Linked DNA regions of Homo sapiens. The protein of the gene in region 2 interacts with the protein of the main gene of each other region in a biochemical or structural test. Each region holds a gene or a part of one and is shown on either strand. Other genes may lie near its edges.

Evidence for each region.
Region 1: the proteins of TC2N (region 2) and EPS15 interact in a test that uses a peptide from one of them, tested with the Homo sapiens proteins (one large-scale study listed by BioGRID).

The regions. Positions count from the first base shown.
Region 1 is NC_000001.11:51,354,989-51,359,028, reverse strand, and holds part of EPS15 (epidermal growth factor receptor substrate 15), read left to right. Parts: intron 1-2,182; coding exon 2,183-2,329; 3' UTR 2,330-4,040. UniProt on the Homo sapiens protein: Involved in cell growth regulation. May be involved in the regulation of mitogenic signals and control of cell proliferation. Involved in the internalization of ligand-inducible receptors of the receptor tyrosine kinase (RTK) type, in particular EGFR.
Region 2 is NC_000014.9:91,794,537-91,798,036, reverse strand, and holds part of TC2N (tandem C2 domains nuclear protein), read left to right. Parts: intron 1-135; coding exon 136-252; intron 253-3,500.

The DNA.
Region 1 (4,040 bases), on a different chromosome or scaffold from region 2:
TTTTAGCAAGTCAAACTCTTGTTGGGGCCAGACGGGGTGGCTCACACCTGTAATCCCAGCACTTTGGAAGGCCGAAGCGGGCGGATCACTTGAGGTCAGGAGTGTGAGACCAGCCTGGCCAACATGGTGAAACCCCGTCTCTACTAAAAATACAAAAATTAGCCAGGCATGGTGGCGCATGCCTGTAATCCCAGCTAGGGAGGCTGAGGTGGGAGGATCACTTAAGCCCCAGAGGCAGAGGTTGCGGGAGCTGATATAGTGCCACTGTCCTCAAGCTGAGTTACAGAGCGAGACTCCGCCTCAAAAAAAAAAAAAAAAACAAAAAAAAACAAATCTGGTTGGAAGGAGTCTTGAACAACAGCTGAGGCATTTTGCTCCAAAATCTCAATATAGTATAATAAAAAACAGCTTATAATAAGAACATCTTCTTTTTTCATTGTGAAAGATGTGGTTAAGCATTACACGTTTCAAAGTTTTGCTTAATTCCCTAGGGAAAAAAACTACCATTTCAAAAGCCTGACAGTGTATTTTATTTCATCCTTTCATGAAGGATTTTCTATGTAACAAGACTTGAAACCAATTAGAATTTTTAATTTAGTATTTGCCAAGGTTGCTGTTTGGGGTAGATAAAAATATTTCCCCAACATAATAATTATGAGTGTTAAGATTTTATTTAGACTGGTCTAAAAGTTCCCAAAGCCTGGAGAAATCTTCATAATGCTTTTTGTTTTATTTTTATTTTTTTTGGCTCACTCCGTCGATCTGGCTGGAGAGCGGTGGTATGATCACAGCTCACTGCAGCCTCAACTTCCCAGGCTCAGGTGATCCTCCCAGGTAGCTGGAACTACAGATGTGCACCACCACACCTGGCTAATTTTTTTTGTAAAAACAGAGTTTTGCCATGTTGCCAAGATGAACTTCTTGAACTTCTGAGCTCAAGCAATTGGCCCACACCCACAGAACTAGGATTACAGATGTCAGCCACCATGCCTGGCTCAAAATGCTTTTTATAAAATATGATTAGGTTCTTGGGAGGCCGAGATGGGCGGATCACCTGAGGTCAGGAGTTCGAGATCAGCCTAACCAACATGAAGAAACCCTATCTCTACTAAAAATACAGGATTAGCCGGGCGTGGTGGTGCATGCTTGTAATTCCAGCTACTCGGGAGGCTGAGGCAAGAGAATCGCTTGAACCCGGGAGGCGGAGGTTGTGGTGAGCCAAGATTGCTCCATAGCACCCAGCCTGGGCAACAAGAGCGAAAACTCTGTCTCAAAAAAAAAAAAAAAAGATTAGGTTTAAATCACATCTTGCTTAGTATACCCAATACTTTAATATGATGTATAGCAAAATCAGCTTTTTTTTTTTTTTCTTGCTTCTTAGCTTTTTTACACATTAAGGGTTAGGAAACTACCAGTGGGATTAAATTAAAAATGATTTGTTGTGTGAGGGTCTCAGTAAAGTTGAAGTGGTAAATATTTTACATTACATTAGGTCAAAAAGGCTAGCCCTGTCCTGTTTTTAAATCTTCTAATCTACTATAAGCATTTCTACTTTTTTTAGTGAGATATATATATATATATATCACATTTAAAAAAAAAAAATATATATATATATATATATATATATATATATATATTTTTTTTTTTTTTTTCAGATGGAATCTCACTTTGTCACCCAGGCTGGAGTGCAGGGGTGCATTTTCGGCTCACTGCAACCTCTGCCTCCTGGGTTCAAGTGATTCATGTGCCTCACCCTCCCAAGTAGCTGGGATTACAGGCACCACCACCATGCCCAGCTAATTTTTGTATTTTTAGTTGAGAGCGAGTTTTGCCATGTTGGCCAAGCTGGTCTCGAACTCCTGACCTCAGGTGATCCACCTGCCTCAGCCTCCAAAGTGCTGGGATTACAGGCATGAGCCACCACATCTAGCCTAGTGGCATTTTTAACATTTAGTTTTATAGACTTTCTATCTATAGATTGAATTAATTTTTTAAATTAAACTATAGCTTAATAACTGGTTAATATTAAACATGTTTTCAGGGGGAAAAAAAAAAGAATTAACAAGTAACCAGACTATTTCCAGAGTCCTTCAGGTGTCCTTTTGTAAAAACTATTTTTCCTTCTTTTTACTTGCTTTACTCATTTATTTATTCGTTTGTTCATCGATCTTTTAAATGGCAGTATCCCTCTGAAGAAGATATGATCGAATGGGCCAAGAGGGAAAGTGAGAGAGAGGAAGAGCAGAGGCTTGCCCGACTAAATCAGCAGGAACAAGAAGACTTAGAACTGGCTATTGCACTCAGCAAATCTGAGATATCAGAAGCATGAAGAATTCTCTTGTTCTTTGGCAACAATATAGTATTCTTCTTCCTGAATACTGAAACTATTTACAATGTGTATCAAAACTACCTGTGAGCATGGGAATACAAAAGGTTTGAGATTCCTGTAAATGTGACAAAATTTTAGGATTTTTTTTTTTTCTTCATTACAGATTCGTCTTTTTTTTTTTTTCTTATAAAAGCCGTAACCCAGTCAGACAAATTCACCTTCACTTAGGCCCCTGTTCTGGTATACATTTACTGTGAGCTTTTGCCTGCCTGTGCTATTTTACTTGTAAAGCTAGAGCACCCAAGCTTCTGCCTTCTGGAATATAGAGAAATAGTTTCACCCTGCACTACCCTGTTCTGTAGTTATTCTGATGATAGCCAGTGAGGTTCTTAAAGTTTGCAGTATTCTCCCCTGATTGGAATGGTTGAGTGAGGGTAAGGGAAAGAATATCTTATTTCTTTTATGATTGGTGCAAATTGGCTAAAGTGCATTTTTAAATTTCCTCTACTTAATTTGTTTTTCAGAGATAAGGAAAAATATTTTGCACAGATTTACTCCACTATGGAAAAGGGATGCTGTAGGTTGAACCATTATAGCCTCAGATTCGATCTTTTCCTAACTAAAAATATTAAAGCCTCATGTGTGAAATAAATTTTTAAAAAGATTTATCTGGATTTAGAGAATTTTAGATCAACAGATACCTCTCAGTGTGTTTGCTAATTAATAAAAATCAGTTTCTTACAAATAAAGTTTGTAAGAAAATGTTCATTTTAAGTGATAGATAGTGGAGAAAATTTATCACCTAAAATATACCCATCAGTATAAGGCAAGCAAAAGTCTTAACATGGCAGCCATTCTGCCTTTGCCGTGGCCCTGTCCTGTTTAGTTCTTAGTGGGTTAATTTTTGTACTTTTGCAGAAGAAACTTCAGCAAGCTAGAACTGGAAGGTACTTTAATTTTTCATATATATTTGTTTTTTTTTTTTTAATGAAGGCTCATTTACTTGAAATGTAAAAACTTTCACTGAATACAAATAGAAAAAGTGATGTGTTTTATATCATATTGCTTTTTGTCCATCTTTGTGGTTTAGTTTATTTACTCACTTCATGTTTTTCACCTATAAAATTGTCAAGCTAGCAAAAAAACTCTTGTTTTTTTAATTGGGAGAGAAGAGACCTGCCAGATTATCAGACCTCTTCATGTTAAAAGACCATCTCCTGTAAAACTGACCTAGTGGACAAGCTGAATTTGAAATAGACTGTGAAGTAAGCTGTAACTTGTCATTTTAATTTTGTTTAACACGGTTACTGACTTAGATGATGTATTAAATACCAAGATAAAGAAAAATGCACCTAAAATCTAATTAGAATTCTCTGGGTCAACAAGTCAAGGTGGTATTGATCTGTGTTAATCTGAGTAACTTATTGCCTAGCCTATAAATAAATTCCAAAATATCCAATTCATTTCTTCTTGAAATGGTGCTTGTTTTGTTTTCTTTCCATTACACAATTAGACTCCTACAGTTTAAAACAAACTTTAAACCACTATCTTGCACTGCTAACTTTTTTCTACCTTTGTAAATAGAAACATTTCTGCATAAAAGTCATACATATGAAGCAAGGGCTGAATCATAATCACAAGGCTTAATTTTGATAAACGAATCCAGTGACCTAAGGATTTTCTGCAAAATTTGACTGGGAGTTGTGATAGG
Region 2 (3,500 bases):
GATGCAACATGAGGTCTCAGTAGACAAGTTTATTTTTTGCAGTTTTTATCTAAAGTCAGTACCTCAAGAAATACATCAAATGTTTGTATTGTTGGATCCTTTGTAAAATTCAAACTGTATTTTTAATTTTTTTAGTGCAGAGATTTAAGTTGGCCCTCTAGTTATGGAGACACTCCTACTGTTTCTATAAAAGGAATACTTACATTGCCCAAACCAGTGCATTTCAAATCTTCAGCCAAGGAAGGTTCCAACGTAAGTGGCTGTTTGTATTTGAATTTCTTTTCTGTTTTTTTTTTTTTTATATTTGTCACTTTTACCCATGTAAACAAGTCAGAATAAGAAAGTCTTTTATCTTAGGGAAACTACAACTATGTATTATTGCTTTTTCAAGGCAACTTTGAGTCTGAAAAATATTTGATATTTCATTGTCTAGTATTAAGATGCATTTAAAAAGAATATCTTATTCACTAAAATATATAGAAGATTAACAATATCTAAGAAACCTGTTTACTTTTCTTGTGTGAAAGGAAATAAATCTTGGCTTCTCTTTCCCCCAACCCACTTTGGCTTTGAAAAATAAATTCATGATTGCAATGAATTTCTTTTAAATATTTCCAATTAGTATAACAGAAAGACTTATGATCCTGAGTTTGGTTTTGTAGATCCTAGATTTTACATTAATTTAAATACATCTTCATTTCTGTCACTTTTTATAGGTTAAAAGATTATTGTTTTTCTATGCAAATGAAAAGATATCTTCTAAAAGACATCATTTTAAAATAATATCATTCAAATGACTAATAAACATATAAAAAGTTTCTTCTCACTATTAATCATAGAAATACAAATTTAAATTGCGTGTATTGCTTTCTGTTTCTTTCTTCCTCTTTCTTTCTTTGCTTTCTTCTTAGAATTAGGAAAACTTTTACAGGTATTCTAGAACATACAACTTCTTAGAAATTATCTTGACACTACATGTCAAAACCTTAAAATATTTATACTTTTAAACAGTAATTCTACTTTGAAACTGGAAATTATTTCTGTGGAAATAATCTAAAATACAAAAATATATAAAATACTCTTGGAAGTTTTGTTTGAAGAAAAATTGAAAAAACTTCAAATGTGTCATACAGAGGAATGGTTGAAAAACCTAATGGTGTACCTATGTGTATTAGTTTCCTAGGGCTACCATAACAGTACTGTACCACAAACTGGGTGACTTACAGCAACAGAATTTTCTCTCTTGCAGCTTTGGAGAAAGTCCAAAATTAAAATGTCAGCAGTGTTGATTCCTTCTCTGAGGGAGAATCTGTTCTATGCCTCTCTTCCAGCTACTGTGATGGCCAGCAATCCTTGACATTCCCTGGCTTGTAGATCACTCCAGTCTCTGCTTCTGTCTTCACATGGCATTATACCTGTGTTCTGTGTATTCACATGGCCATCTTCTTAAAGGATACCAGTCATTAGGGGTCCACCCTATGTCAGTATTACCTTTTCTTAACTTCACTGATCACATCTACAGTGACCCTGTTTCCAAATGAGTTCACATTCTGAGATGCTGGGGCTCAGGACTTCAACATATCTTTTTTAGGGGGGTGTAATTCATCCCATAACACCATGTGATAGAAAACTAGGTAACTATGAAAACTAATGTTTAGGAAGAGTTTTTAAGGAGCTGGAAAAACATTTTTAATAAATGAAAAAGACAATGATCAAAATTGGGTTGTGTGTGTATGTGTATATGTGTATGAATGTGTATATATGTATGTATGTGTATATGTATATATGTATATATATATTGGGATCTTACTTTATGAAAATATGTATCATTGAAAGTCTAGCTAGAAATAAACCTTAACTCATTATAACCTTGACACTCATAGATGAATACTTTCTGAATTAAACAATTTTACTTTTTGATTTTCAAATAAAGCTAATTTAACTTAGGAAAAGTTAGGAAAAATGTTCCCATATTAAAACTTGTATGGAATCTTTCATTTTACAATTTTATTATTATATATAAATTTGTTTGGGAGACTCCTATTTGGCAAAATACAGAAAGTGTGAAATGAAGCATCACACTTGCATAATTTGTAAGCTCATTAAACATTTTGTGTGTAATATATAATTGGTGTGATTCTATGACTTGAGACTCTAAAAGAAAAAGATAGCTCAGTAGTTGTGAGACCCTCAGAAAGACAGTTCTGGCTGTACAGACAGACATAAGCTATTACAACAAGAGTAACAGTTTGGGCACAGTATAGGCATACTTCGGAGATACTGTAGGTTCAGTTCCAGACTGCCACACTAAAATGAACATTGCAATAAAGCAGGTCACATGAGTTTTTTGGTTTCCCAGTGCATACAAAAGTTATCTTTATACTGTAGTCCATTAAGTGTGCAATAGCATTATGTCTAAAAAAAGTAATTTACATACTTTAATTTAAAATACTTTATTTCTAAAAAATGTTAATGATCATCTGAGTCTTCAGCAAGTTGTAATTTTTTTGCTGTTGGAAGGTTTTGCCTTGATGTTGATGGTTGCTGAATGATCAGGGTGGTGGTTAGTGAAGGTTGAAGTGGCTGTGGCAATTTCTTAAAATAAGACAACAGTGAAGTTGGCCACATCTATTGACTCTTCCTTTCACAAAAAAGTTCCCTGTAGTATGTGATGCTGTTTGATAGCATTTTATCCACAGTAGAACTTCTTTCAAAATTGGATTCCATCCTCTCAAACCCTGCTGTTGCTTTTCAGCTAAGTTTATGTAATATTCTGAATCCTCTGAATTCATTTCAACAACGTTCACAGCATCTTCACCAGGAGTAGATTCCATCTCCAGAAACTACTTTCTTTGCTCATGTGTGAGAATCAACTCCTTATCTGTTCATATTGTATCATGAGATGGCAGCCATTCAATTGCATCTTCAGGATCCACTTCTAATTCTAGTTCTCTTGCTGTTTCCACCACATCTGCAATTACTTCCTCTGCCGAAATTTTGAATCCCTCAAAGTCAGCCATGAGGATTAGAATAAACTTCTTCCAGATTCCTGCTAATGTCCTTTTTTTGACCTTTCATGCATCATGAATTTTCTTAATGGCATCTAAAATCCTGAATCCTTTCTAAAAAGTTTTCAATTGCTTTTGCCCAGGTCCATCAGAGGAATCACTATCTATGGCAGTGATAGCCTTACAAAATTTAGTTTTTAAGTAATAACACTTGAAAGTTGAAATTACTCCCTGATCCATGGGATGCAGAATGGATGTGTTTGCAGACATGAAAATAACATTCATCTCTGTATACATCTCTGTCAGGGCTCTTGGGTGACGAAGTGCATTGTCAATGAGAAATAATGTTTTGAAAGGAATCTTTTTTTTTTTGAGCAGTAGATCTCAATAGTAGACTTAAAATATTTAGTAAACCATGCTGTAAACAGATATGCTGTTATCCAGGCTTTGTTGTTCCCTTTATAGAGCACAGGCATAGTTAATTTAGTATAA